Homo sapiens: one gene and its partners. The protein of the gene in region 3 interacts with the protein of the main gene of each other region in a pairwise test. Each region holds a gene or a part of one and is shown on either strand. Other genes may lie near its edges. The genes, in order: FXR2, KRTAP1-1, C10orf62 and KRT40.

Region 1 (9,152 bases), on a different chromosome or scaffold from region 3:
CCTTTCCCAAGTGAGAAAACTTAAGCCCTCCCAACTCCAGTCCCTAAACCTATATTTCTCCACTGCTATTGAATTATGGCAAGTTTTAGCTTCAGTCGTCCAAGTCATGAGGGGGGAGCCAGGAAACCCAGGACAACTCCCCAAGTTAAGAGGTCTGTGATGCGCATGCCGGAGAAAAAGCCTGGAGCCAGAACAGAACACCACCAAGAAGGCCGGACCCCGGGCTCCAGAGGCTGCTGTGAGGGAACCCTGCTCCCCACTCTGCCCAACGGCCCAGCCCAAGCCCCAGGCCTCAGGTAATCGGATTAAGCAGCCTGCCTTGGCTCTCAGCTTCTACAGGAACAGCTCCAGCTCTGAGCAGCCCTGCCTAGCCTGTGCTGTGACTCAGGGTATAGGAGTGGCCCAACTCCCTCTACCAGCAAACTTGGGGGAGGGGAGAAGCAACAAGGCACAAGCCCCCCTCCTCTGAACCAGGAGGGAGAACCTGGGCCTGGGGAGTTTAGGAATGTCAGGAATTCCCAGAAGTAAGACCATCTTTGGGACAAGAGACAATGAAGAGAAGTCAGATGTGGAGGAACAGAAAACAAGAGCCAGGGGCCAGGGCAGGTCAGTCCTAGAGAAACAAATGGACCAAACTGGGGACAAAGAAGGCACAGGAGCCAGACAGCCATTTGGATTTTTTTATTCTCTTTTTAAATACTGTACAGTGAAAAATAAATACGCCTTCTCATCCACCAGACAAGGTTGGTCCCCTCCCCAGGGGGACCTTGTCACCCCCCTTCATACACACCCCTGGTTCTACTCCAAAACCTTCCCCGTGCCTCCCACCCACTTATCTCTTACTATCCCCGTCTTCCACAGTGATGAGGCCCCAGAAATGGGGGGTACAGGATGGGAGGAGGGATAGCAGGGGAGGCCCCCTGAACGGTCAAATCTGGGTGGGTCGAGGAGCACCCCCCACCAACAGGTGGAGAATGGGGGTGTTCAGAGAGAGATTGGGGCATTAGAGGATAAAGGCACATCCAGTCTGATGGGGAAGGAGAGAGGCTCCCCTTACCCTGGGGGTAGGGTGGACAAGAGGGAGGGGGTATGACCCTGTTACACACCCCTCCACTAGCTCCTGGAGGTTGGGGGGTACCCAAGCTGCTGTGCCACCCCCCTCCCCCCTAGATAAGAGCAGCTCCAGCGCAGGTCAGTTGGGCCTGTGAGGGCCATGGTGTTGGGCAGCAAGCGAGATGGAGAAGGGAGGGGTGCAGGTTGGAGGTTTTATGAAACCCCATTCACCATACTACCCAACTCCAAGGGGGCGGAGAGCTCCCCATTCTCCGAGGGGCCCTTAGGAAGCTTGCTGACAGAGTCACCCTGAGGGGAAAGTGGGAAAGAAAACAGAAAAGCAAGAAGCGGTGAGTAGAAATTCAGGTGGGAGACATTCCCTACCATCCAAGCCCTCCTGGCATTTGGTGATCCAGAGGTTGGTTCCCTGATCTCATGATCCAGTCTCTCTTACTTGGGATCCAGAAAATGTGAACCACACTTTCTTCTCTATCCTATTCAAAGTTTACACTGGTCTAAACTCCATCAGACACAGCTGCCTCTGCAATTCAGTAGGAGATTTGTGAAATTTTTTGTGCCCCCTGCCCCAGAGTAACAACAAAAAAGGGATGGGGTAAAGCACATCTTGCCTGCCTACCTTCTGTCCTGAAAGAGAGTCTTCTGAGGGTTTAGTGCGTTCCAGGGGTGGCCTCTGGCGGCTCTGAGACTCTGCTCGTGAGATATAGTCAGCCACAGTCACTGGGGAAGGCAGGAGATTAAGACTTTCAGATGGAATTCTGGTAGCCAGCCTAAGACACCCACTGAACCCGAACCCCTGATTTTCACAGGGGTGAGCATCCCATTCTCTCAGCTCTGAGGAAGGATTCTGGTGTCCAGAGTTGGCTGACCTGGCTGGCGGTCTCCACTGATAGAGCCATCAGTCCGATTACCACGGTTACGGCGGCGGCGGCTGCGATTACGACGTTGAGGTCTTGATTCATCTTCTGTAGGGTAGGAAAAAACCAGAGTCACACATCCAACCTCCCACCCTCGATTCCTACCCATCTCTAACTTTCCAGACCCCAGGCACACCCTCACCCAGGCCATTCTCTGTCATGTTGGGCCCATCTGATTCCAGGCCTCCATCCATGACGGTCCTGTCTTCATCAGTGCGGCGGCGGCGGGAGCGGCGGCGCCTGGCACTTGCTGGGGGGGGTTCCCCAGGTTCTGAATCAACCGGGGGCTCTGGTTCAGACGTGTCCAATAGGCTGTAGGGATTACTGTCTGGATCCTTCAGCACTGGTCAGAGGAAGAAGAGGAGGAGTTGGCAGTCAGGTGCCCATCATCTTTCCTTTTGGCCCATATTCATGAACCCAGCTGTCTGGTACCTGAGCTAATAGATGAAGAATTGTATCTCGAAGTGGGCCGGGGGGCAGGTGGGGGTCCCCTACCCCGGCCCCCAGTCGGCCGCCTCCGGCTTTCTTCCCCTCGGGTTGGGGGATCCCTGTCGCCAGGCCCAGCTCGGTTGGGCTCCTCTCTCTTCTCTGACTCAGTCTCTGAAGCTGTAGACACATCTGAGCTGGGGCCTGAAGAACACAATGGGATTTATTCACGGCCATTCATCCCACCTCAGGATCCATCACATCCCCCAAACTGGAAGAATTCTCCTTCTCACTCACAAGCCTCCCAGCCAATCAATCACTTTTTCATCATCTCCATTCCAGATTTCCCCAAACTTCCATCCAGACCTCTGCCTCTACCCACAAGCCCTGCCACTCCTTGCCTCCTGTTCCCATAACTGTCTCACCATAGGCAGGACCGCCTGTCCTCCGGCCACGGCCACGGCCCCCATAGCTGCCCCCATAGGTTCGAGTCGCATGGAGGGAGGAGGAGGAGCTCTCATCAGTGCTATATCCAGCCTTGTCGCTGCCACCGCTGCCCCGCCCACTCCCAGGAGGGCGAAAGCCCAGCCCAATCTGCCGAAGCTGCTCATCAATTTGTAGCCTCTCCAAGCGAAGCTGCTCTACCTCCTGGTTGGGTAAAAGATGGAAGAAGGGGAAGGAGAAATAAGATCAGTGCCTTGCTTCATGCTTCTGCACCCTGACTGTCCCTCTATATCTAACCTCTCAGGAATGCAGGGAGAAGGAAGACACTGGCTAAACAAGGAAAATTCTGGGACCCAACCCTATAGCCCCAAATTTCCACAGATGTTTTCTGTTCTACACGGAGAGACAAACAGAGAACCAAAATCCCTGAGCTGACCCCCACAGCAGTCTTAGTTCCCTTTTCACACCCAGCATTTTTCTCTCCCGGCCTGGGTACCTGCAGGTAGGAGAGGTGATACTCCAGCAAAGCCTGGGCATTGCTGATGTTCTCTCGGGTGCCAACAAAAATGAAGGGAACCATTCCCTAGAGAACAGAGAGCAGAAACGATGGATCAGAAAGGAAAATGAAATGGAAGGATTAACGCCGCCCAGTCTCCTAGGGGAGCCTGCCCAGTGGGATCATTCTGGGCTCTAAATCTACTAGTGTTAAACAACTTTCCGTACTCCACCCTCTCAAAGAACAATCCCAGCCCTCAGAGGACAATCCCATTTACTTCTGGAAACCAATCTCTATGCCCACTTGCCCCGTACCCATACCTCCTCCCTGGGGTTCTTCTTGTCATTATCACCTTCCACTCGAACCCTCACCACACCAGATTTATCCACAATCTCCTGGATCACTTTCCCGTTCTTTCCAATCACTTTGCCTGGAATAGGTAAATGAGGAATTCAGCCTTTTATTTTTTTTAAGGAAATAAGAATAAAGCTGATACACCGTCTTCCAGCCTCATTTTCTTTATATGGATTCCATTTACTTCATTCTCCTGCTTCTAGGTTTCTGATGTGTTTTTACAGGACAAAATGTTACAATCCCTAGAAATTTATTCTTTCATTTTTATCACTCCCATTACAGACTGTTTCTCTGTCCTTGTGAAACTGGGAGTCCACAGGGAGGTGCCAATCCTGGATAAAAGCTCAGAATCACTGTAGAGAATCTTGATTCTGACCTCTAACTGTATATACACACCACCAACTCACCAACCAGGTTCCTGGGCACTTGCACTGAGTCCTCAGAAAACTCAAGGTAGCTTCGGGCCTGTCGGCAAGCCTCGGGAGTCTAAAGGAAGAACAGCAGGGAGTTGTTACTAAAACAGAAGACCAGCTGGATGTGGTGGCTCACGCCTGTAATCCCAGCACTTTGGGAGGCTGGAGGCAGGTGGATAAATTGAGCTCAAGAGTTCAAGACTAGCCTGGGCAATATGGTGAAACGCCATCTCTACTAAAAATACAAAAATCAAAATACAAAAATACTAAAATACTAAAAATACAAAATTGGTGGCTCACGTCTCTAATCCCAGCTACTCCGGAGGCTGAGGCAGGAGATTTCTTGAACCCAGGAGGCAGAGGTTGCAATAAGCTGAGATTGTGCCACTGCACTCTAGCCCGGGCAACAGAGTGAGTTAGACTCCATCTCATAAAAAAAAAAAATTAAACAAATAAATAACTTAAAAAAAAAAACAGAGGACCTTGGCCAGGCACAGCGGCTCACACCCATAATCTCAACAGTTTCGGAGGCTAAGAAGGGAGGATTGCTTGAGGCTAGGAGTTAACAACCAGCTTGGGCAACAGAGATCTGGTCTATTTTTTTGATTTTTTGGTCTCACTCTATTGACTATGTTGCCCAGGTTGGTTCAGTGGCACCATCATGGTGTACTGCAGCCTTGACTTTCCAGGCTCAAGTGATCCTCCTGCCTCCGCCTCCCAAGTAGCCAAGTAGCTGGGGCCACAGATGCATGCCACCACGCTCAGTTAACGTTTTTTGGTTTTTGGTTTTTTTGGGGGGTAAAGACAGGGTCTCTCTATGTTGTCCAGGTTGTTCTCCAACTCCCAGGCTCAAGTGATCCTCCCCTCTATCTTCCCATTTCAGCCTCCCAAGTACCTGCGACTACAGGTACGCACCACTACTTCCAGCTAATTTTTAAATTTTTGTAGAGATTGGGTCTCACTATGTTGCACAGGCTGGTCTCAAACTCCTAGGCTCAAGTGATCCTCTCACTTTGACCTCCGAAGGTGCTGGGATTACAGGTGTGAGCCACTGTGCCCAGTTTGAGGCTTATTTTCTACTTCGGCCTCTCTTCCCTCTATCCCCTAAGAGACCCAGAAGAAAGACATCCTTTGCTGACCTCCCCATAGATGCGGAAAGTGCAGGTCTCTTCACCCAACTCAATGGCGGTCACCCCAGGTACTTTTCGGGCCTGCTGGATGTTGGCACCGTGAGTCCCAATTGCCAGTCCCATCAGGTCCTCTCGCACTGTGAACTCCTCTTGGAAGGCTGCTGCCAACTGCTTGCTTGTCTGAAAGGAAAAGTCACTGTAGGAATCATGGTGGTAGAATCTCACAGTCCCAGGCACACGACCCTTTGCATAACTTAAATAAGGAAAACTGTGTGATATTAATAGAAAGCTAGAACCACTCTGGAGTCCGCGGACCACGAGGACCTGTGTGGAAAGGTCAGGAACTTTTTGTTTTTTCTTTGAGATGGCGTCTCGCTCTGTCGCCCAGGCTGGAGTGCAGTGGCGCGATCTCAGCTCACTGCAACCTCCGCCTCTCGACTTCAAGTGATTCTCATGCCTCGGCCTCCTGAGTAGCTACGACTACAGGTGTCCACCACCATGCCTGGCTAATTTCTGTATTTTTAGTAGAGACAAGGTTTCACCATGTTGGCCAGGCTGGTCTCAAACTCCTGACCTCAGGTGATCCGCCCGCCTCAGCCTCCCAAAGTGCTGGGATTACCGGCATAAGCCACCACGCCCGGCCAAGGTCAGGAACTTTTAATTCCACTCCTTCCAAATACCAGTGGTTTGTGGGGGAGGAAAGGTAAAGAGGGCAGAGTTTGGACTGGGACACACCGAAGTTCTGGATTTGGCCCTAACAGTATCTGTCCCTAAGAGTATCTATCTGTGTGATCTTAAACAAAACATACTCTGCCTCTTGTGTCATCTGCTAAGTGATTATATCCAACTTATCTTATTCTCAAGACTAGCAAGAGGATTAGACAAGGCTGGTGTGAAAGTACTTCTCACAAGGTACATGCAAGTGTAAGGAACTCTTACCTTAATCAAACAAATATCAACTCATCCCCAAATAAAACTCAACAACTTAAGTAAAAAGTGAGGGGTAGGCTGTGCGCGGTGGCTCACGCCTGTAATTCCAGCACTGTGGGAGGCTGAGGCAGGTGGATCACAAGGTCAGGAGATCAAGACCATCCTGCCAACATAGTGAAACCCCATCTCTATTAAAAATACAAAAATTAGCTGGCCTTGGTGGGGTGTGCCTATAATCCCAGCTGCTTGGGAGGCTGAGGCAGGAGAATTGCTTGAACCAGGGAGTTGGAGGTTACAGTGAGCCGAGGTCATGCCACTGCACTCCAGCCTGGTGACAGAGCAAAACTCTGTCTCAAAAAAAAGTGAGGGGTTAAGAAAAACAGAAAACATGCCTCTAGAACACCAGGCTTTCACTTCATTTCTCAATCAGTCCTTAGAGGAACCCCTGGGTTCAGGGGCAGGAAGACAGGAAAGGTTTTAGAGGAGTGAATCCCATGTTGTAAGCACCAAATAGAAACAATACCTGAAAGGAGACATTCCTAGATTGAAATACACTACTTCCCACTTCCAAGTTGGATAGGACTGAATTATACCAAGGATTTATACCAGGCAAGAAGAGAAAGTTGGAAAAATAAACTAAGTTGAGTGTTCAAAATCACTACATTAGGAGGGGAGGGGAAGAGATCTACAATGACCTATAAGCGTCTTCTAGATAAGCTTGCAGAACAGCTGGGTTTTCTTTTTTTTTTTTCTTTTTTTTGAGATGGGGTCTGTCACCCAGGCTAGAGTGCAGTGGCATGATCTCTGCTCACTGCAACTTCTGCCTCCCTTTTTTTGTATTTTTAGTAGAGAAGGGGTTTCACCATGCTGGCCAGACTGGTCTCAAACTCCTAACCTCAGGCAATCCACCTGCCTCGGCTTCCCAAAGTGCTGGGATTGCAGGCGTGAGCCGCTGCACCCGGCCCCTTTCCGGTTTTTAGAGGCTTCACTACTAGGCATGACTGATTAAATCACTGATCCTCAGTGATTGCCTTAACCTTTGGCCCCATTCCCCTCCCAGGAAGTTGGTGGGGGTGAGGCTGAAAGTTCCAACCCTCTAATCATGAAGCCACCTAGAGGGGCTAGCCATGAATCAACTCATCAGCACACAAAAACACACATCACTGGAGATTCCAAGGATTTTAGAAGTTGAATGCCAGGAGCCTGGTCAGGAGACCAAATATGTATCTCTCAGTATCACAGAGCCTGTCAGTCCTACTGGTTTTACTCGTAAAATTTATCCTACATAAAACTACTCTCTCTCTCTTCCTTTAGCACTCCAGTTCAAGTTTCTCACCTGGACTACTGTGCTCTGTTCCTGCTTCCATTCTTGCCCCCCTTTCCATCTGTCATTGAAACAGGAGTTTAAAACAGAAGGCACTTTCGGCCGGGCACAGTGGCTCTCGCCTGTAATCCCAGCACTTTGGGAGGCCGAGGTGGGTGGATCACGAGGTCAGGAGATCAAGACCATCCTGGCTAACACGGTGAAACCCCATCTCTACTAAAAAAAAATACAAAAAAATCAGCCGGGCGTGGTGGCAGGCGCCTGTAGTCCCAGCTTCTCGTGAGGCTGAGGCAGGAGAATGGCGTGAACTTGGGAGGTGGAGCTTGCAGTGAGCCGAGATCACGCCAATGCACTCCAGCCTGGGTGACAGAGCGAGACTCCGTCTCAAAAACAAAACAAAACAAAACAAAACAAAAAACCAGAAGGCACTGTTAACTCAATGGCTTCTCAGTATACGCACAATAAAATCCCCCCTCCTCAGCCTACCGTACATGTCTTACATGATCTACTCTCTGACCGAATTTTGTATCGGTCTCCCTTTGCTCACTCTGCGCTAACTACACAAGCTGCAGTGAGCTGAGATCGCACTACTGCACTCCAGCCTGGACGACAGAATGAGACTCCGTCTCAAAAAATTAAAAAACAACAACAAAAATTAGGCCGGGTGCAATGGGTCATGTCTATAATCCCAGCACTTTGGGAGGCCAAGGCAAGTGGATCCCTTGAGGCCAGGGGTTCGCGACCAGCCTAGCCAACATGGTGAAACTCCGTCTCTACTAAAAATACTGAAATTAGGGCCAGGTATAGTGGCTCATGCCTGTAATCCCAGTACTTTGGGAGGCCAAGGCAGGTGGATCACCTGCGGTCGGGAGTTCAAAACCAGCCTGGGCAACATGGTGAAACACTAAAAAAGCAAAAATTATCCAGACGTGGGGGCGCGTGCCTATTATCCCAGCTACCTGGGAGGCCGAGGCACAAGAATCGCTTGAACCCAGGAGCGAGAGGTTGCAGGGAGCGGAGATTGTGCCATTGCACTCCAGCCTGGGTGACAGAGGGAAACTGTCTCCAAAAAAAAAAAAAAAATAGCCAGGTATGGTGGCATGCACCTGTAATCCCACCCACCCAAAGGCTGAGGTGAGAGGATCACTTGAGCTCGGGGGGTAGAGACTGCAGTGAGCTGAGATCGCACCACTACATACACTCCAGCCTGGATAACAGACTGAGACTCCATCTCAAAACAAAAAACAAAAACAAAAAATAAAGTTTGTATCATCTGAAGGTAATGGTGAATTTTTACCTGCCAGTGCCCTGAGCAGGATCCCTGAAGAAGTCAAAGATTATCATGACCCAGAAATTGCACAGGCACAGAAAAAAGCCTCCCAAAAAGATCAATTCCCTTGATAAATGGAAATGGTATTCAAACACACACACCCTATTCACTTAGAATAGTATAATACCAACGAAAGGGAATCTGACAATTATACGATGTCAGAATTCAAAAAGATCTCACAGAAATACTCTAGTCAGGCCAGGCGTGGTGGCTGACACCTGTAATCCCAACATTTTGGGAGGTCGAGGTGGGCGGATCACCTGAGGTCCATAGTTTGAGATCAGCCTGGCCAACATGGTGAAACCCCATCTCTACTA
Region 2 (8,544 bases), on a different chromosome or scaffold from region 3:
GTGTGGGGGAAGGGGTATGAGGAGCTTTCATAACCTCTCTGGGAACAGCACATTCCAGGAACCTCCACACATTCAGCTATCTGGAAGCTCCTCAAACTCTGTGGGTTTTTTTTTTTTTTTTTTTTTGAACATTTTACGGGGACTTCAGTGGATGGGCATGATGGACAACCATTAGAAACGTGATTGGACAAAAAGAGTATGATCTAATGTTAGTAGAGTGAGTGATGAAACCTGTCTGTCAGATCCTTCTTGGTCTCTCTATGCAGCCTTCCTTCCTCCAGGGCATGGGGCAGAACCTCTTCTGAAATGGGGATCTTATGACCTACAATCAGGCAAGGTAGGTAGGAGAATATCTTGATGGCCAGTGCCAAGAACAGTGGGGGAAGATTCTTGCCTTGAGGAGTAAAAGGAGCAGGTGAAAAGAGGTGGGGAGAAGGCCAGAGAGAGAGAGAGAGCAAGAGCAAGTGAGTGAGCGAGAGCGAGAGAGAGAGAGATTCTGTTTTCTGAGGCCTGCTTCTGAAGTGTAAAGTGCCCTAACATCAATAAAAGGGCTATGGGAGTTATGAGCCTAGACCTTGAATGAAATGTGTATATTCGTTACATGCTATTACTCTGTAATCTTGTGTTTGTATTCTTTCACAATTTTTATTATGCTTTTGTATATCTTGGAGGACAGAAATAATTGTATACAACCTCATATATGAATGGATGAATGAATAGATTTGGCAAAACCTCAAGAAGCTGAATCAATCTGTTGGAATACCTAGCCCACCACTTTGCACATGAGAGGACCTTAGGAAACAGTTCCTAAATGTTGTCAAGTTCCTTTAATCATATGTCTTGGCTGCAAAATATTGGACCATTTAATGGTAAAACAAAGGAAAATTGCTGTTAAATATCATCATTAAAAGAGCAAAAGTACAGAAAAACCATAGTGTCATGTCATGTTGATATTTTGAAAAATCCCAGTACCCCAATATTGTTAATAAATTCCAAAGCAAAGAAAGTTCAAACAACAACTTCATCATTGAAGAGATGAAAACTTTTATTAAATTTAAGTCCCAATAACTGTTGAAATATTTCAGGTGATATTTATAGTAAAATAGTATCTAACTCTTTTCACATTGTAGGACTTTGGCTGACAACCAGGTCTAGGAAAAATTTTTGGTCTTCCATTGTAAATGAATTTACTTCCTAGGGAATTTATGTGGCTGTGTGATGAGAGGTTGCAAGCCCAGTTATAGGTACTGGAGTTCAGAAGATTGTTAGGATTCTAATTTGGCTAGTTTTAAGGTGCCATCTTATCAGGATCCCCAGCAGAAGGAGGTTTTCAACAAGTGGGCTCAGAGCAGTAGCAGCAGCAGACTGGGCGGCAACAGGACTGTCCACAGTAGGATGGGCGGCAGCAGGAGGCCTCGGCGTGGTGCAGCTGGCAGCAGGATGGGGGTGTGCAGCTCACCACGCAGCAGGGGGGCAGGCAGGTACCCTCCACACGGCAGTCTGGGCGGCACCACCTGATACGGGTGCTCACAGCTCCACTGCTGCCCTCCTGGCCATAGCCAATGCCACCACCAATGCCACAGCCAGTTCCGCAGGAGCTGGTCTGGTAGCAGCTTGGCTGGCAGCAGCTAGTTTCACAGCAGCTTGGCTGGCAGCAGCTAGAGTCACAAGTCCCACCGGTTGAGAAGCTAGGAAATCCACAGAAGCTGGTCTGGCAGCAGCTTGGCTGGCAGCAGCTGGTCTCACAGCAGCGTGGCTGGCAGGAGCTGGTCTCACAGCAGCTTGGCTGGCAGCAGCTGGAGCCGCAGGTCCCACTGGTGGAGCAGCTGGGAAATCCACAGAAGCTGGTCTGACAGCAGGCCATGGTGTCAGGAGTTGATCTGAAGGTTGGGTTGCTTGGAGGAGTTTCTGAATTATGGCTGCCTATTCCACTGCCGGCTTTTTATAAGTCTGGGCCAATTCCTCTATTTGTGGCGAGCAACATTTTTATCTTGTTACTCTTTAAACCAGCCTTTCTAGGGCCCTCTGATGGTTCAAATGCTGAATTGTTTTAAATATATCTCAAAATTGATTTTTCCTTATTGCTCAGCTAATACTCACCAAATGTGTTTGTCCTTGGTAAAAATGTTAACATTTTGTTTACAAACAATGGTATAATTTCCACTTGAGCTTCAGCTTCAGGTTTGCACTTGTGGGTATATCACCTGACAAAGTGACTCTCACCCATAAGGTGATGTGATTTTGGAGATCATATTCACCAAACCTCAGGTCTCCAGAAAAGAATTATTAATCATGATTGCCCTTATGTAAGACTGCTTTGTATTTTTTAGACTAATAAGATTATCCTCTCTCGATATAATCTTATTAGCCAGATAGAAACTCTGATAAACTCTATATTCATAGAAATTCATAGATTTTTCCCTGAAATGGAATCTTTCCAATTTCTGTGATATCTCCTGAACTTCACATTCATATTTTAGGAAACATTGATCACTCAGGAGGATATATAAAACAAAACCTGTTCAATTTCAATGTCTCTTAAAAAAGAGGCTAAAATTCATATTCAGTAATTGGAAAAAATTGCAAAATATTTTAACAAAATTTACACTTCTCTATGAAAGACAAAAATCACTTGTATATGGATTATCTGGCATATAATTTTTCAAAGGCAGAATTTAATTTTAATTTATGTCATTTCAAGTTACTAAACCATGTGTCCTGTGAAAAGATATTAGACCAAAGAGCATGACAACTGAATTTAGGAAAGGGAATAAATCAAAGAAAAAGCAAGAGTTAGAAAATACTTTTATCTGCTTTATAAGGCAGGTTAGAAAATGGGTGACCAAATATAGTTCAAGAGGTGTAGTATAATAAATGCAAAGAGATTAAGAAAAATTTCAGCAAAATAAAAGTTAAAACAATTCCTGGTCATTGCCAGAAGAAAGAATGTAATTTTCACTGGGAGTTTAGGGTTACGTGAGATAAATGAAAAAAGGCTGGTCAAAAACATATTATTTCTACTTGGGGTAGGTTTATTTCTCCCTTCCAATCATGAATAGAAACACATAGTTAGCTTTTTATGAGGTGGTGGCATTTGTTTGTACAGGAATGGGGTTATATCACAATGTGATTCATGCCAGCTTCAGTAAAGATGTTCACGTCATATGGTAACCATGACTGTAGGTATGAAGTTGAAAATGGTTATATGTAATCAATGAATGTTGGAGATCAAAAATGTAGTAAATTATCTTGTTCCACCACTTAATTTTATAGGTGTAGAAACTGACATCATTCTTATTATAAATAGCACATATTTATTAACTTCTACTATGCCCAGAGCACTAAAGGCTTATACAGAAAGCAAGATCCCATCTATTTGTTTTGTATCTTGCTCTAGTATAAAAATCAGTGTAGTAGCAATAGGAGGGATTAATCAAGGAAAAGAGTTGAGTATAGAACCATTTAGTCTCAAAGTTCTAAATGGGAACATTGGTGATGTGCTATGGAGCACTTTTCATTTTCACTTAACATCGGCTGATGTTAGAATACTCTTGAGTCTTGAAGAGGTTAAGTGGCTTGTTCCATTCACACAGTACACAACCAGAAGAGCTGGGTATAAAATTCCTATCACTTGTTCCTAGACCAGTTCTTTTTATTTTATACCATGCTGCTTTTCAGAATCAATTAATGTTAGTAAGGCTCTTTGTCTTTGTCTTTTTTTCTAAAAAAAAAAGGTATTTTGTAATAGCACAAGAATAGAAATATTAGATGGTAGAGAGATGGCACTATGGAGTAGTGATTTTAAATACACAATAAATAAGTACAAATATGTTAAAGTTCTTTTAAGTATCTGGACCAGAGACTTATAATTGGAATAAGTCACATTTGCCTCCTAGTTGTTTTTTGTTTCCCACATTCAACTAAGTTAATATACTTTCTGGGTTTCTACATCTGCTATACTCATTGTGTCTTCTTTATTCCATGGGTATTATCTTAGTTGAGCTCTTATTGTAATCACTTGACCAAGGCAATATCTTCCTGATTAGTTTCTGTATAGTTCTGTACGACTCATTTCTCTGGCCTTTGACCTCTGTCTTTATAAGGAGCTATCATGAGAATTGTCCCAATGCCCTGCTCTTGTTATGCCATTTTCCTGCCCCAAAGCTTTCAACAACTCCTTACTGCTTATTGCATTAAGGGTGTACTCCGTTGGCTAGTATTCAAAGCATACAAATTTTCCAAATCTTTCTTTCATTATCACTCTATATATATCCAGTGCCCCCAGCCAAACCGTACTCTGAACAACCCTATGGTTCCCCTCCCTCCACACCTTTGCTCATACTATTTCTATTGCTGAGAATGCCATCCCTGTGATCTGGACACCACAATCTGAACCTATATAAAATGTTAGCTTCTCTTTTCAATCTTTCTTATTTTCCCCAACCAACAGTGACTTCTGTGTTGACACCACACAGTGTTGTACTTTTATTTTTTAATATTCTAGTTTTTAGATGAATTATAGGTGAATATGACTCATGTCTCTAGAATCTTTTTGAAGATGGGAACATTTTTAATTCAATTTTACTTTCTATTTTATACCATATAGCCTGTGACTTGCATATGGTAGGCAAGCAGCACATTTAGACCCTATTTCTTAACTCATTTAAAAACAACCCAAAATGGATTAAATACTTAAATATAAGACCACATATAATAAAACAACTAGAAGAAAACCCACAGGAAACATTTTATGACACTTGTCTGGGCAATGGTTTTTTCTTGGGGGGATAAGACCTCAAAGGCACAGGCAACAAAAGTGAAAGTAAACAAATGGGATTATATAAAATTAAAACCTTCTGCACAGCAAAGGAAACAATCAAATCAGCAGAGTGAAGAGACAGCCTAGAGAATGGGAGAAAATATTTTCTTTTTTGGTACTTTTTTTTTTATTATACTTTTAAGTTCTAGGGTACATGTGCACAACGTGCAGGTTTGTTACATATGTATACGTGTGCCATGTTGGTGTGCTGCACCCATTAACTCATCATTTACATTAGGTATATCTCCTAATGCTATCCCTCCCCCCTCCCCCCACCACACAACAGTCCCCGGTGTGTGATGTTCCCCCTCCTGTGTCCAAGTGTTCTCATTGTTCAATTCCCACCTATGAGTGAGAACATGCGGTGTTTGGTTTTCTGTCCTTGTGATAGTTTGCTGAGAATGATGGTTTCCAGCTTCATCCATGTCCCTACAAAGGACATGAACTCATCATTTTTTATGGCTGCATAGTATTCCATGTATATGTGCCACATTTTCTTAATCCAATCTATCATTGATGGACATTTGGGTTGGTTCCAAGTCTTTGCTATTGTGAATAGTGCTGCAATAAACATACATGTGCATGTATCTTTATAGCAGCATGATTTATAATCCTTTGGGTATATACCCAGTAATGGGATGGCTGGGTCAAATGGTATTTCTAGTTCTAGATCCCTGAGGAATCGCCACACTGTCTTCCACAATGGTTGAACTAGTTTACAGTCCCACCAACAGTGTAAAAGTGTTCCTATTTCTCCACATCCTCTCCAGCACCTGTTGTTTCCTGACTTTTTAATGATCACCATTCTAACTGGTGTGAGATGGTATCTCATTGTGGTTTTGATTTGCATTTCTCTGATGGCCAGTGATGATGAGCATTTTTTCATGTGTCTGTTGGCTGCATAAATGTCTTCTTTTGAGAAGTGTCTGTTCATATCCTTCACCCACTTATTGATGGGGTTGTTTGTTTTTTTCTTGTAAATTTGTTTGAGTTCTTTGTAGATTCTGGATATTAGCCCTTTGTCAGATGAGTAGATTGCAAAAATTTGGGAGAAAATATTTTCAAACTATGCATCTGACCAGGGGTTAATATCTAGAATATATAAGGAACTTGAACAACTCAACAGTGAATAATAATAAAAAATCCAATTAAAAATAGGTAAAAGACCTGAATAGATATTTCACAAAAGAAAACATACAAATTTCCAACACATATATGAAGAAGTGCTCAGCATCACTAATCATCAGGAAATGCAAATCAAAACCGCAATGAGATACCATATCACCACAATTAGAATGGCTATTATCAAAAATACAAAAAGATAACAAATGCTGGTGTGGATGTGGAAAAAAGGGAACTCATACAAGGTTAGAGGGAATGTAAAGTAGTATAGCCATTATGGAAAACAGTATGGAGGGTTCCCCAAAAATTAAAAATAGGACGATCATGTGATCCAGGAATCCCACTACTGAGTATATACGCAAAGGAAATGAAATCAGTATGTTGAGGAGATTTCTGCACTTCCATGTTTATTGCAGCACGATTCACAACAGCCAACATATGAAAACAATCTAAGTGTTCATCAATGGATGAATGGATAAAGAAAATGTGACACACACTCACACCCAAACACACAATGAAATACTATCAGCCATGAAAAAGAATGAAATACTGTCATGTGCAGCAACATGGATGAACCTGGGGGACATTATGTTAAGTGAAATTAACCAGGCACAGAAAGACAAATAGCACATTCACTCACTCCTATGTGAAATCTAAAGAAGTTGATCTCATAGAAGTAGAGAGTAGAATAGTGACTACCAGAGGCTGGGGAGGGTGAGAGGAGGGGAGGATAGGCAGAGATTGGTCTACAGGTACAAAGTTACAGGTAGATAGGAGGGATAAGTTTTGGTATTCTAATGTACAGTAGGGTGACTGTGGTTAGTAATATTTTATCATATATTTCAAAATAGCGATCAGAGAATATTTTAAATGATCTTACCATGAAGAAATGATAAATGTATGAGGTGACGAATATGCTAAACACCCTGACTTGATTATTACACAACGTATACATGTATGGAAACATTACATTGCACCCCATAAATATGTACAATTATGTGTCAGTTTTTTTAATTAAAAAATTAATTTAATACAAAATATTAGAATGAGTAAATAAAACCAAATCTTTTTGCAAGGCCAAAGAACAGATATTTATTAGAAAATAAACATGCCACGAAATCTTAAGAAGAAGGAAATTGCTTCTTTTACAGACTTCAGAATGGCCCAGGTCTTAATAGATGAGCCCAGTGCTCGGTTCCCTGCTTGGTTGATGTGGGGTTTTGTGGGCTCAGGGCAGGAGGTTTGTTAAAGTAGAGAAATGGGAGTGTGACTTTTTCAGAAGGTGAGTTACGCGTTCCGGGCAGTCAGTGCACTGCTCAGCAGGAGGAGGTCCTGCAGGTGGTGCTGCAAGGGGTCGGCTGGCCGCAGGGGGACTGCACAGACACAGGCTGGCAGCAGGTGGTGGCTCAGCAGGAGGAGGTCCTGCAGGTGGTGCTGCAAGGGGTCGGCTGGCCGCAGGGGGGCCGGCAGCAGGGGGACTGCACAGACACAGGCTGGCAGCAGGTGGTGGCCCAGCAGCAGGGCCTGCACACCACAGCCGTGCACGACGAGGGGCAGCAGGTGATGGGGCGGCAGCAGCCTTCCTGCAGGGAGCAGGGGTCGCAGCACACCGGGCGGCGGCAGGGCTCGCAGATGGGGCGCGTGCAGCGGGGCACGCAGGTCACGGGGCGGCACACGGTGGTCTGGCAGGTCACGGGGCGGCAGCAGCAGGGGTCGCGGCAGCAGCAGGGCTGGCAGCAGCCTCCCCCGTAGCTCAGGGAGGAGAAGGTGGAGCCGCAGCAGGAGCCGGTCATGGTGGTGTCTGAGGCTGGTGTGGGTTGGGCTGTGGAGAGGAGCTGGATGTTCTCAGGTGTGAATGTCCTCCTCCCCCTCTGGGCCCTTTATATACCCTGGCCGGGTGCAGGTGACCCTTTTCGTTTACCTTTTGGCCAATTAAGTAGAATTTTGTTTTGACTAATGGTTGCTTGTGACACACTCATTATCTCACTAAAGAGCTCTTGTTTTATCTCTAAGTATGGATGTACTCACATTGGGTGAAAATCTAAGAACTCATCGTCATTTGAGGTGATAGTAGCTCTTGATGCTTATTTTGAGTAGATAACACTGGATCAAATCTGGACAAAACGGTCTAAAAAAACTTCAGTTTTTAAAAGAAATTAAAAACATAGAGAAGTACATAGAACATTGAGTAGAGCCTATCCTGACCCCAATAGGGGACTCAAGTCCTTGGAAGCACCTACATGTGAAACGTGAATCACACGAGTGTTAGACAAGCCCTCCCACGTAGTCTGCTTGGGAATACGTTTGATTATCACTTGATATAGTGGGATACATAGGCCTTGAATAGGATAGCAGCTCATAGAGTTGTACAGGACAGACAAAAATTTTTGCAAACCACTAAGTGTTGGAATAAAACCTCCAAGACTGCCTTGCATGTTTTCTTTTCTCTAGTTCAGGTTCTGTGCAACTCTGGTCTTTCTGTCATAAGATGCTGATTTTTATCTCTGAAACATGTCATTTTTTAGCGTTGCCTTTCTTGTGCATGTAATGAAGAATTCTGTAATGGGAAATTTTTCTGAATATACCTTGTTGGCCGGGCGCAG
Region 3 (6,479 bases):
AATTAAATTAAATTAAATTAAGTTAAACAAACAAGAAGAAAGTGTTGTGCTCACTCAGTAGCTGTAGACTTAGGTGGTGGGGAGGTACTAACATGGATCCCAAGGGGCCCCAGGAAGCAGGTGGGGCTGGTGAGAGAACTGCCTTGTAGGATGCCACATGACTTGAGAGCAAAGATAGCACCAAGACGACAGGGGCCCTCATTCCCACCTGGCTTAGTTACTCTCCTCTGAAAGCCTGTTTCTCCTCCAAGCCCAATACCTGGCTGCTCCCCTCTTCCCTGGCAACATCAGATTGGGGGTGTTGAGACGTCTAGAGGTACCCCTTTTCCAGAACCTGAGACCAGGGTAGCTGTTTTATGGAGCTTTAAATGAGGCCCAGTGAAAAGGCCCCAGGTCGGGGGCCTTTTCTCCACTCCACTCCAGAGGACTGCTGGAGAGGGAGCCCCCTCCCTCCATCCCTGCCAGACCTTAGGCTGCCCACAGAGCCCCTGGACTCAGAGTGAAGGCACACAAAGCTTTATTGGCTCCGTTCCAGGCAATGACATCAGTGTGGGGCTCTTGCCTGCTCCCATCTGTCTTCTCTTGGTGGGTCTTCAGGGGCCTCAGGGTCTATCTCACCTGCGCTGTGTCCTCCCAGCTCTCCCTCCAACAGGGGCCATCTTCTGTGGCAGACCCCACTCATGGAGTTTAAAGAGCCCATAATCCCCGTGAGGAGCCTAAGAAAGTAGGGATTTGGGCACAGCATCTCACCCTGGCCTGCATAGATGGCCCCATAGGAGAGAAAACAGACGTGTGTGTGAGCCAGCCTTGCTGGGGGCAGGGGCGTCTCCATCCATGGTTAGGTGGCTTCCAAGAAGTCACAGATCTAGTGTCTGCGATTAGGCAGGCTGTGGCTCTGGTGGCTTGGGTGGCCATGGTGACTGTGGTGACTGTGGCCATAGAAGGTGTGTGTGTGATTGGCACCAGCTATGGTGTTTTCCCGCTGGGTGAGGAAATTCTTTTGCAGCTTCATCTCTACCTCCTCGAGGGCCCTCAGCTCCTCCTGGTTGATGTCCTTGGACTCTAGGTGACCTGAGTGCTGGTAAGCTATGGCCCGCTGCAGCATGGAGTGAGCCAGGTGCCGCCCCTGGGTGTCAATCTCCTTGGTGCAGGCAGCCACAGCGGCCCACGTGGCCTCATCAGTGGATGGGGCTTTTCCAGACTCCTGGTGGATCTCTTGGATCACTGAGGGCCCAGATGTCTTCTGCCTGCTGGTGAAGGATTCCCGGTGCAGAGCGGAGCCCACTTCTCCGTGCCTCGTGGTGAAGGTCTCTATGTGAACCGTGGAGCTGACCTCTTCACTCCCACTCTCAGTCTGGGTAGCATTGCCACTAGCGCTGGCATTGTTGTCGAGGGCCAGCTTCTCTTCGGAAAGGCGGCTAAAGTGGGATTTAATCCAGCTTTCATTCTTTGCTTTATGGGATTCTGGTGACTTGTCCTTGTCTGATGGACACTCAGAGGTTTCCTTTCTTCTCCTCTTTCTCTGAACCCACAGCATGAGACCTCCACCTCCTAGCAAGAGGGCAGTCCCCAGCACCACCTTGCATGATGGCTGCTGGATGAGCTCCAAGAAGGTCTCCAGGACCCTACACCAGGCAGGCAGAGCTAAGAGCACGCTGGGTGATCTCTGGTGGTATGATTCATGCTTGAAAGGGCAGGCTCCCCAAGGATGTCTGACAGGCAGGCCCCCTGCTGCACCCTCCCTAGGTGCCCCCCACCACCTCAACAATGAACCCCATTGTGAGGAAGGCAGTTGCGGGTGGGGTGGGGAGAGTGGGGTGGGGAGAGGCCGCAGCATCCCTCATGTCTAGCCTGGCAGGCATTGCCTGAGGCCTGGGTCCTGTCTCCTACCCTGACAGCTGTCCCCAGGCTCAGTGAAAGGGCTGCTTCTCCAATTCTGAGTCCTTCTGCCTTCTGCTTGGAATCCATTCTACAACTTAGGCCTTTGTATCTTCCAGTCTTTGGTTTCTCTCTCTCCCCATCTGGTGGCCCCCAGGGGGCAAAGTATGCTGGGTCAGGCTGGCCATGACAGAATGATCCCCTTGACTGGGCTGGTATCCATTCCTAGCCATCTGAGACCAGTGCACCTCCATCCAGTGCCCATGTCTGCTGCCAGCCTGGCATATTCCATCCTCATTTGCAGCCCCTCGCCTCACTACAGGGCAGAGTTCAGAGGGAAAAGAACCCAGGAAGGAGCTCATTCTGGAGTAACTAACATGAGGTCACAATGGGCTGAGGGTGGAGAGGCAAGCAGTGGGCTGAGAAGGCAGAGTGGACAGGAGACTTCATCGGGTCTAGATCCCTGGGGCCACTCCGGGATGGTAGCTGCTACCTCTTGCCTTAGTGAGGCACCTACAAACCCAGAATTTGCCCCCCCATAAATAGGCATGGTTCGGGTTGTGAGCAGGTGGGCTGGCTGGCCAGGCTTTCCATAGGTGCAGACAACTAAAAGCCTAATTAATCTCCAAGGCCTCTCAGGGTATAAACAGGCCTGGGCCACTGTATTTTTTTTTCCCCTCAAAAGCATCTAGCCCATTTAAAAAAAAATAAGAAATGCCAAAATGGGGTTGTAAACATTGTGATGCTTTAAACAAAATATTTTCTTTAACAGAGTAATGGTTTTAATATATACAAAATATTATATCTTTGCAAGAAAGCATGGTCCACTCTATGTATGGAAGGAATAGGACACAAGTGTTTTATGGAGAACCTCATCTTCCCAGTCCTGCTGGACTAGTTCTGTGGTTGGCTAACCTCATTTGGAAATAACAATTCAAAGTCCATCTTTGAGGGTGTTTATGGGTGTGAGTTCAGGGCCATAGAGCCCTTCTGTAATGACCCCTTCCTCTAGTCTCTGGTCATAATTTTTATTTAAAAAGAATACTCTTGGCTGGGCGCTGTGGCTCACGCCTGTAATCCCAACACTTTGGGAGGCCGAGGCGGACGATCACGAGGTCAGGAGATTGAGACCATCCTGGCTAACACGGTGAAACCCCATCTCTACTAAAAATACACACACACACACAAAAAATTAGCCGTGCATGGTGGTGGGAGCCTGTAGTCCCAGCTACTCAGGAGGCTGAGGCAGGAAAATGGCGTGAACCTGGAAGGCAGAGCTTGCAGTAAGCCGAGATCGTGCCACTGCACTGCAGCCTGGGAGACAGAGCAAGACTCCATCACAAAAAAAAAAAAAAAAGAAAGAAAAAACAAAAAGAATACTCTCTATTCAAATAATCAGTACAAATTAGCAATGCTAAAAAGATTTTTTAAAAAGAGCTACACGGGGCCGGGCATGGTGGCTCATGCCTGTAATCCCAGCATTTTGGGAGGCAGAGGCAGGCAGATCACTTGAGCTCAGGAATTCGAGATCAGCCTGGGCAACACGGCAAAATCCCATCTCTACTAAAAATACAAAAAATTAGCCGGGTATAGTGGTGTGCACCTTTGGTCCCAGCTACTCGGGAGGCTGAGATGGGCAGATTGCTTTAGTCCCAGGAGGCAGAGGTTGCAGTGAGCCGAGATCGTGCCACTGCAGTCCAGCCTGGGTGGCAGACTGAGACCCCATCTTAAAAATAAATAAATAAATAAGAGGCCCAGCGCGGTGGCTCACGCCTGTAATCCCAGCACTTTGGGAGGCCGAGGCCGGCGGACCGTGAGGTCAGGAGTTCAAGACCAGCTTGGCCAACATGGTGAAACCCCATCTCTACTAAAAATACAAAAATTAGCCAGGCGTGGTGGCAGGCACCTGTAATCCCAGCTACTCAGGAGGCTGAGGCATGAGAATCGCTTGAACCCAGGAAGCGGAGGTTTCAGTGAGGCAAATCATGCCACTGCACTCCAGCCTGAGCGACAGAGCAAGACTCTGTCTCAAAAAAAAAAGCTACACAGTTTCAGGGAGTGCTTTCCAGAAGAATCTCTAACTCTTCACTGATTCATCCAGGGCAGCTTTCCACCTCCTATTTATTTGTTTTAATAGAGACAGGGTCTCACTATGTTGGCCAGGCTGGTCTCCAACTCCTGGTCTCAAGAGATCCTCCTGCCTTGGCCTCCCAAAGTGCTGGGATTACAGGAGTAAGCCACTGTGCCTGGCCCTCATCTCCTCTTCAGAGGACCTTTAACTGGCTGCAGGAGGCCCTTACAATGTGATACGTTCCCTCCTCAGCCTGAGTGTTGGGCTGCAAAGTCTACCTCAGGGGCCAGGACAGGGCAAGAGAAACACAGATTTCAGAGCTAAAGTTGTTTGTGTCTTCCTTCCTGGGCATTTTGGCTGCACCCTGGAAGCAGGGAAGGGACCCTCTATCTCTGTGTTTTCTGTGACAGTGCCTTGGGAGGATTATATTGACCCTGTGGCTAGAAGCCTGAAGGCTCAGTTCCTATTCTAAAATGAGGACTGGATTTGAAAGGTTAAGTGGTTTCCCCAAGGTCTCTGTTAACTGGCAGAAGTGGCAGGATTCTTGCCCAGGTCCTCTAACTCAAGATGCTGGGCTCTTCCTACCACACCCCGCTGGCTCTCTGGTGTGTGGGTGAGTGATCAGATGGGAGCTGGAGCCTGCATAGGTTGCGAGGGAGACAGACAAGTGGGTATGTGCAGCCCACAGCCTGCTAAATCCACGGAAGCCTGTGCTCCTGGGCACCCCATGCCCTCTGCAAGAGTGGGTGGGTGGCCCAGAAGGGAGGGTCCAGAGAAGAGTCTGGGGGTCTCTGTGGATTCTCTGGGTGTCAGGCAAACACCAGATGCAAAGTCCACCCTCCCCACCCTGAACTAGAGCATCCTTGAACCTTGAAGCTGAAGTAAGGTCTTCACTTAGAGGCTCAAAATGCTTCTCACTTCAAGAGAACCAGGACCTCACCAAACCTCCAGGCCCCACGAGCCAAGCACCAGCAGAAACCTAACAGTTGTGCCCTGCTCAACGTGGCCCTCCACAGGGCATTCATTGTCCCCAAGGAAGGGGCACATTCCCTCAGTACTGAGCTATGAATGATCAACGTGTCCATCAGGCCAGGGGTCACAGTCACAAAGCAGCTTTGCTGCAATGCCAATCACACTGTCATTTTAATCATTATTACCATTGGAATCAGTACCTTCCAATGTATATTACTCCACAATTTATAGCACGATTTCACTTGCATTCTCTCAGATTTTTTTGTCCAACCATCCCATAATATGAGCATTATCACTCCCATGTGTCCGATAGGGACAGCAATCATCCCACACTAAGTCAGTGCCAGAGATGTGATTTGATTTTTTTTTTTTTTTTTGAGATGGAGTCTTGCTCTGTCGCCCGGGCTAGAGTGCAATGGTATGATCTCAGCTCACTGCAATCTCTGCCTCCCGGGTTCAAGCGATTCTCCTGCCTCAGTCTCCCGAGTAGCTGGGATTACAGGCACACACCACCACGCCCAGCTAATTTTTGCATTTTTAGTAGAGACGGGGTTTCACTATGTTGGCCAGGCTGGTCTTGAACTCCTGACCTCATGATCCCTCCGCCTCGGCCTCCCAAAGTGTTGGGATTACAGGCGCTCACTCCAGAGCTGTGATTTGAAACCAGAGTCCACAGTCTACACGATACTGCCTCAATAGCAGCCACAACAAAGCTAGTGCTGACCAGACACTCCGTTGAAATAGTGTGGCCTAGCAGCTCCAAAGGGTTTATAATGAGAGTCAGCGAGGGAGTAAAATGGAGCATGGGCCATGCAGTCAGACGAGGTGCAAACCTCAGCTCAGCTATGTGTTAGCCGAATGACCTTGGGCAGTGACCATGTCACTCTGAGGCCCAGATTCCCATCTGTGGGATGGTCCTACAGAGAGCACTGCCTCAGGGGATTGTGCAGTAAGGAATGGGGATGGGCGGAGCAGGGCAGGCAGAATTTGACATTTTCTTCTACCTTCATTTATTGTGCCTGGGACTCTGTTACATGTTGATTGTTGCAAATATCATCTGGTCCCTAACCTCAGAGTTGGGGAGACCCATGTGTAAAGAGAGATGGGGTCACAGGAGCCACAACAGGAGTCACAGGAGCCAAGGGGTCACAGGAGAACTAATTCTGGCAAGGAGGCTTTGTCCAGAAGAGAATGTACAAACAAACTTTGGAGGGAACTGGGACTGTGGCTGGGCTGCCACGTGACCCCAGCCACATGCCTTCACATCTGCACCAAGTGACAAGGTTGACAAGGACTTTCACGCCCATTATCCAGTCCAACCTCAGAATCACTCTGGGAGCTACAAAGGCACTTTAACAGTTTACAGCTGGGTAAACTGAAGCAGGTGAGGTTTAGCTTAAGGTTACAGGCCAGCGTGGAGCTTCCTGCCTGTCTCCTGACTCCAGACCAGTCTCCCCTGTTCCTCTCCCATAATAAAATGACCCACTGAGTACCAGACTATCCCTGGACAGCTTGACAGAGCCTGTGTACCCTCCCTTGGTCTCTGGCTAAAGGGCCA
Region 4 (6,264 bases), on a different chromosome or scaffold from region 3:
CGCCTGGCCGACAGTTTTTTTTTTTCTTTTAGCATTTGAAAACTATTGTATTACTTCATATTGGCTTCCATGGTTTATGGTGACATACCTGCCATCAATTAAATTGTTTTCTTCTATTGGTAAGGTGTCATTTCTCTCTCACTGCTTTCATAATTTTTTTTGTCTTTAGCTTTCAAAAGTTTGAATATGATATTTCCTGGTGTAGATTTCTTAGGGTTTATCATTTTTGGGGTTTGCTTGGTTTCTGGAATCTGTAGGTTTTTGTCTTTTGCCATATTTGTAAATTTTCAGTGTTTATTCCTTCAAATGTTTTTGGCTTCACTTTTTCTCCTCCCTTACAGAACTCCACTGACATGAATGTTAGATCGTTTGATATAGCCCCAAAATTCCCTGAGACTCTATCTTTTTAACACTATTTTTTTTCCGTTTTTCAGGTCGGATGATGTCTATTATTGTATCATCAAATTCCCTGATGTTTTCCTCTCTGGCCTGCATTCTGCTGTTAAGCCCATCTCCATTGAGGTTTCTATTTTGGTTCTATGGTATGTTTCAGTTCTGAAATTTCCACTGGAGTCTTTCCATCTTCTTCATTGAGTCTTCTCTATTTTTGCATTTGTTGTAAGAGTTTATTGAAGCATTGCTTACTGAAGCATTTTTATGATGACTATTTAAAAATCATTGTCAATAAGTAAAATAGTGTAACTGGATGTTTGTAACACCAAAGATACATGCTTGAGGGGATGGACACCCCATTCTCCATGTGATTATTACACATTGCATGCCTGTGTCAAATCATCTCATGTACCCCATAAATATATACATCTATGTACCCAGAAAAATAACAAATAAAAAGTTAAAAACCCTTGTCAGTTAATTCTAACGTCTTTTTCCTCTTGATGTTTGAATTTGTTGATCATCTTTTTTCCTGTAAGTTGAGATTTTATGATCCTTGGTATAAAGAGCAATTGTTGATTGAAACCTGGACATTGGGGCATTATGTTATGAGATTCAGGATACTGTTTAATCTTATGTTCTAGCAGGTCTCCTCTGACACTGTTTTGGCAGGGGAAGGGGGACACTGCTTCATTCCTACCAGGTGGGAGTAGAAATACAGGTTCTCTCCACTTTGCCCCTATTGACACCCAAGGGGAGAGCCCCCCTCATCACTGCTGGGAGGGAGGATTTTAGACTCCTTACCTGGCCTCTGCTGATACCACCCTGGCCAGGAGGGGCAGGAATATCTTGTTATTGCTCCCATGCAGCTTCCACTGACACTGCATGGGGGTGGCCTTGGTACTGCTGGAGGAGGGAAAGAGTTCTGACTGTCCAGTAGGACTCTTGTGACACTAACCCCAGAGGAGAAAAGAAGAGCCTCACTGCAGCCTGTAGAGTTAAGTCCAGGCTTCCCGTGTGGTCTCCACTGATACCATGATGGTGGGACAGGGAGTGCTTCCATGTCTCATAGTAGGAATGAAAGTCCTGGATCTCTCACTTAGCCTTCCCTGATTCCACCCCAGTGGTGAAGTTTGAGTGCCTTATTACAGCCTGGGAAGGATAGAAGTCTGGACTCCCCACCTGGCCTTTCCTTGTGTGGATATGGGTGGGTGAAATGATATTTTCTGTGGTGTTTGGCTGAGTTGAGTGGTTATTGTCTAAAGGTTTTCCGCCTTTCTAGGCTGCCTCTTTTCTGGTTCTTTAAGCAGAGCAAGCTCTTTCTGTTTGTTTGTTTGTTTGTTTTGTCTGCACCTGTTGGTGTTTCTGGTTGTTGGTTTCTCCAGCTCCCCCTCTGGGATATATGAGATAAAAAGCTAATCCAGGGAGCTCACCACAGTGTCACTCCTGGAGTCTCAACATCTTTAGGTGGTTTGGCTTCTTCTTCTACCTTTCAGAGTCCTCTTATGTTTATTTGATATGTAATTTCCAGGGTTTTTAGGAGGAGGAATATGGAAATATACATCATTCTGGAAGTTCTCTACCTTGTTTTTTAAATATATGAGAATAATTATTCTTATAACCTAAATGTCCAATAACAGATCAATGTACCTTATGGTACATTATGCAACCAGTAAAATGATGGCTACAGGCTGGGTGCAGTGGCTCACACCTGTAATCCCAGCACTTTGGGAGGCTGAAGCTGGTGGATCACAAGGTCAAGAGATTGAGACCATCCTGGCTAACACGGTGAAACCCTGTCTCTACTAAAAAAAAAAAAAAATTAGCCTGGTGTGGTGGCAGACACCTGTAGTCCCAGCTACTTGGGAGGCTGAGGCAGGAGAATCGCTTGAACCCAGGAGGCAGAGGTTGCAGTGAGCCCAGATAGTGTGACTACACTCCAGCCTGGGTGACACAGCAAGACTCTGTCTCAAAAAAAAAATAAAAAATAAAAAAAGTGATGGCTACAATACAATCTTATGTTTTTATTAGAATTAAAAATGCTTAGATGACATAAATGAAAGAAAGTTTACACAAGTGTGTGCATATGTTAGTATGATTATAGCTGTGTGGAAAAATCTATTATAAGAAAGAAAACTGGAAGAAAGTACCCCAAAATATTGACTATGGCTGTTTGGAAGATGAAATCATAAGTGACCTTTTCCCTTTTAATGAGCCAAATTTAAAAAAAGAGAATCTAGTACTTTTATAATCAAAAAATACATTTTATCATATTTTATTCCTAATATTTTTCCTCAGAAAGATACACACAACTATTTTCTAAGATATATGACATTTCTCATGGGTTCATTAATTTATTTGTATTTGAGGAGTTAAAAAATATTTTCAGCCTGGGTTTATGTACATTGAAACTATGGTTATGGGTTTAGATGATTTCCTTGCCATAAAATGAATATTCTATCAACAGTAATCAGCCATAGAGCTATATTTACCACGCTAAAGGAATAAAACACGTTTTATTTGGAGATGAGCAAGAATGCTTTATGGGCTTCCAGTATACCACAAATAAGCCGGAAGGAGAGGAAATAGTAAAGCAGAAAGACTGAGGATACCTGGAGGGCAATTCCAGGATATGAGAGCCTCCTGGATTTGTGCTTCCGGTTTGGATGTCCCTGGTTGAAGCCCCATCTCCTTTCTAGGATGCTGCTGGCTTTGATTCCTCTACCTGCTGTCCTTAACATTCACAAGCAGCAGTTTTCAACAGTGCAGATGACATAGGCTGAGCATGGCTCACAAGTGTTGCTCGAGGTGCATGTGGTCGAACATGGGCTACAGGAAAGCCTGGGGAAAAATCGATTTTCAACCAAGATTAACAAGGGAATGTTGATAAAATGGCAACTCAGAAAAACCGTGTCAAAATTTGCCCTACAAATTATGTTCTGAAAAAAACTCTGCACAATAGCATTGACTGAAGCCTGTTTCTTCTCTGCACCCAGAATTGCCACTTCATGTTCACTGTAGCAGTGGCAGTTGAATAGTATTTTATATTTTTTCTTGATTTTGCAAATGTTATCTTAGGCCTATTCCTGATTTTCCTTTAGTGGAAAACAGGAACAAAGGGAGATGCCAGCATGAAATGTTACACTAATAATTAATCTGCCTTTAGAATATTTTAAAAATATCTCTAGTGTCATGTTCTTAACCTCAGCCACTTTTCAGCACTTTTTTAAGAAGATCCCTAAACACACTGGGGAGGTCTGAACTTGTCCAGACTTTGGGGAAACAGGATTCTTTTACATCAGCCTCTTTGTGACTCTGGGGGATTTCATGAGTAACTGTGGAACTTGCCTGCTGTCCTCGCTGTCCAGCAGGCCCCAGTACGTGTTGATCTCACCCTCCAGCCGGGCCTTCACGTCCAGGAGCACCTGGTACTCCTGGTTCTGTCGCTCCAGGTCGCAGCGGATCTCGGCCAGCTGGTTCTCCAGGTTATCGATCAGACACTGAATTTGGGCCAGCTGGGAGCTGTACTGGGCCTCGGTTTCTGCCACGGTGCATTCCAGAGATTCTGTCTGCGGGAGGAAACATTGTCCAAAGGACCATGAAGTGCAGTCTCTCGGGCCAGAGTGCCTACTTTCAAATTCCTGCTTACCCTTTTCTAGCTATGTGACCACTGGCAAATTATTTAGCTTCTGTGAGTCTCAGTTTTATTCTCTGTATAGTGGAGAATACAAAGTATCTGTTTCATTAGACGGTTGTGAAGATTAAGAGTTAATATGCGGGCTGGGCGCGGTGGCTCAGGCCTGTAATCCCAGCACTTTGGGAGGCCGAGGCGGGCGGATCACAAGGTCAGAAGATCGAGACCATCCTGGCTAACACGGTGAAACCCCGTCTCTACTAAAAATATAAAAAATTAGCTGGGTACGGTGGTGGACGCCTGTAGTCCCAGCTACTCAGGAGAATGGTGTGAACCCGGGAGGCAAAGCTTGCAGTAAGTCAAGATCATGCCATTGCACTCCAGCCTGGGCGACAGAGGGAGACTCCGTCCAAAAAAAAAAAAAAAGAGTTAATGTGCGTAAAGCATTTAGAACAGTGCCAGCCATACTGCCACTGTTCTACGTGTCAACTATCACTACCACCACTATGACTACAGCAATACATGACATATTTGTGAAGCTTAAGGACTATCCACAACATATGAGAGGAAAGATTGAGTTTGGGCTCTTGGCAGGGAGGGGTAGTATAGTGCTATTAAGAGAAGAGGCTCTGGATACCAGAGGCTGGGACTGGCATATGTGTGGTAAGGGGATGAAGAGAGGTTGGTTAATGGGTGCAAACATACAGTTAGACAGAAAGAATATGTTTTCATGTTGGACAGCAGAGAAGTGTGACTACAGTTAACAACAATACACTGTGCATTTCAAAATAGCTAGATGGGAGGACTTGAAATGCTCCCAACACATAGAAATGATAAATACTTGAGGTGATGGATGCTCTAAATATCCTGACTTGATCATTACACATTCTATGCATGTAACAAAATATCACATCTACGTAAAAAAAATTTACGCATATTATATATCAATAAAAATAAATTTAAAAAGAGAGAGAGAAGAGACTCTGGGATTCAACTGGCTGAACTCAGCTTCCAAGTTTGCCTCTTAGAATTGCATCCTTTGCAAGTTACTTAATCTGAGTCTCAGTTTTCCTTATCTGTGTCATGGGATAAAGGTATCTATCCGGTAAAGTTACTGTGAGCCTTAAATCAGCATAGTGCCTCTCACAGGATGAATGCTCAGCTATTGTTCTTCTAGGTGTTCTCCGCAGGGCCTAATGACATGCACACAGTGGTGCTTGACCAGAACTGGTTCATGTCATCTTGAACGCATGGTGTTCCTGTTGCTTGAGTGGGGGGTGGTGCAGTGAAGGATAAGGTTGAAGTGTAGATCCTGGGAAACTGTAGGATGAAATGTTTGAAAATGATTCTTTGTTTTAGATATAACAGTGAGCCTGGAAAACTGGCCTGAATCAAATGAGAATTAAAACCTGCCAGAATGCTTAAGCGACCATGGCCCGGAGGTTTCTCTCCAGCTCTGCTTCTCCCTCCCTGTCTCTGGAGGCTGCTGCAGCATCAGACTCAAGCCCAGGAGTGAAGGTAAGGCATCTTAGAGGACAAGCTGTGGACCTGTCACTTCTGCTTCTATTAATAGCTGGGTAAACGGCAGTACTCGGGAAAGGCAAGGAAATGTGATCCTCGGATATGGAAGAGGGCTTAACATCTCAGGGCCTGACTTATCAGTGACACAACGGACACTGCCTTTGCCTCACGCACCAGGCTTTGCTGTGCTTGGAGCTCAATTTCCAGAGCACTGGCTGTGCGTTTCAGTTCCAAGATCTCCATCTGGCAGCCCTGCAGCTGCTCCGCGCTGGACAGTTGCTGCTGATTCAGCTCTTCTGTCTGAAACACAGACACCATTAGAGAATTCAAAAAAGGCAGAAGTCTGTAAGCCTGACATTTTTTCAATCTGGGTACTGACCTGAACAGCCAACCATTCTTCAGCTTCTCTGCGATTGTTGGCAAGCACCGTTTCACACTGACAGCGCATCTCATCCAGGACCCTGTTGAGGTCAAGGGTGGGGGCAGTGTCCAGCTCCACACTGAGGCGGTCGCCAAGCTGTTCACGAAGCAAGTTGACTTCCTGAAAGTGGGATGGTGTAAAGAATGTCACAGAATGGTGGGGAAAAATCCATTTGACATCCAATGGCATTCTACTTCTGTTTTTTGGAGCAGTGGGTAAAAGTGTGAGATTTTGATTCAGATTGCCTGGGCTGAATCTCTTTTCACCACTTAGAAGGGCCTCAGTTTCTTCGTCT

The links.
Region 1: the proteins of C10orf62 (region 3) and FXR2 interact in binary tests that used the Homo sapiens proteins (3 or more experiments, as listed by UniProt).
Region 2: the proteins of C10orf62 (region 3) and KRTAP1-1 interact in binary tests that used the Homo sapiens proteins (3 or more experiments, as listed by UniProt).
Region 4: the proteins of C10orf62 (region 3) and KRT40 interact in binary tests that used the Homo sapiens proteins (3 or more experiments, as listed by UniProt).

The regions. Positions count from the first base shown.
Region 1 is NC_000017.11:7,590,564-7,599,715, forward strand, and holds the end of FXR2 (RNA-binding protein FXR2), read right to left. Parts: intron 5,432-9,152; coding exon 5,261-5,431; intron 4,195-5,260; coding exon 4,116-4,194; intron 3,785-4,115; coding exon 3,675-3,784; intron 3,442-3,674; coding exon 3,355-3,441; intron 3,063-3,354; coding exon 2,840-3,062; intron 2,619-2,839; coding exon 2,421-2,618; intron 2,332-2,420; coding exon 2,131-2,331; intron 2,037-2,130; coding exon 1,941-2,036; intron 1,792-1,940; coding exon 1,691-1,791; intron 1,595-1,690; coding exon of another isoform or gene 1,559-1,594; exon of another isoform or gene 1,503-1,558; intron 1,363-1,502; coding exon 1,267-1,362; 3' UTR 667-1,266; downstream 1-666. UniProt on the Homo sapiens protein: mRNA-binding protein that acts as a regulator of mRNAs translation and/or stability, and which is required for adult hippocampal neurogenesis. Specifically binds to AU-rich elements (AREs) in the 3'-UTR of target mRNAs.
Region 2 is NC_000017.11:41,039,534-41,048,077, forward strand, and holds KRTAP1-1 (keratin-associated protein 1-1), read right to left. Parts: upstream 1,918-8,544; 5' UTR 1,865-1,917; coding exon 1,331-1,864; 3' UTR 1,008-1,330; downstream 1-1,007. Other genes in the region: KRTAP2-1 (keratin-associated protein 2-1), read right to left, coding at 7,348-7,734. UniProt on the Homo sapiens protein: In the hair cortex, hair keratin intermediate filaments are embedded in an interfilamentous matrix, consisting of hair keratin-associated proteins (KRTAP), which are essential for the formation of a rigid and resistant hair shaft through their extensive disulfide bond cross-linking with abundant cysteine residues of hair keratins.
Region 3 is NC_000010.11:97,584,956-97,591,434, reverse strand, and holds C10orf62 (uncharacterized protein C10orf62), read right to left. Parts: upstream 1,715-6,479; 5' UTR 1,538-1,714; coding exon 866-1,537; 3' UTR 501-865; downstream 1-500.
Region 4 is NC_000017.11:40,975,063-40,981,326, forward strand, and holds the end of KRT40 (keratin, type I cytoskeletal 40), read right to left. Parts: exon of another isoform or gene 6,263-6,264; coding exon of another isoform or gene 6,239-6,262; exon of another isoform or gene 6,090-6,238; coding exon 5,928-6,089; exon of another isoform or gene 5,849-5,927; coding exon 5,723-5,848; exon of another isoform or gene 3,963-5,722; coding exon 3,742-3,962; intron 3,235-3,741; coding exon 3,135-3,234; 3' UTR 2,653-3,134; downstream 1-2,652. UniProt on the Homo sapiens protein: May play a role in late hair differentiation.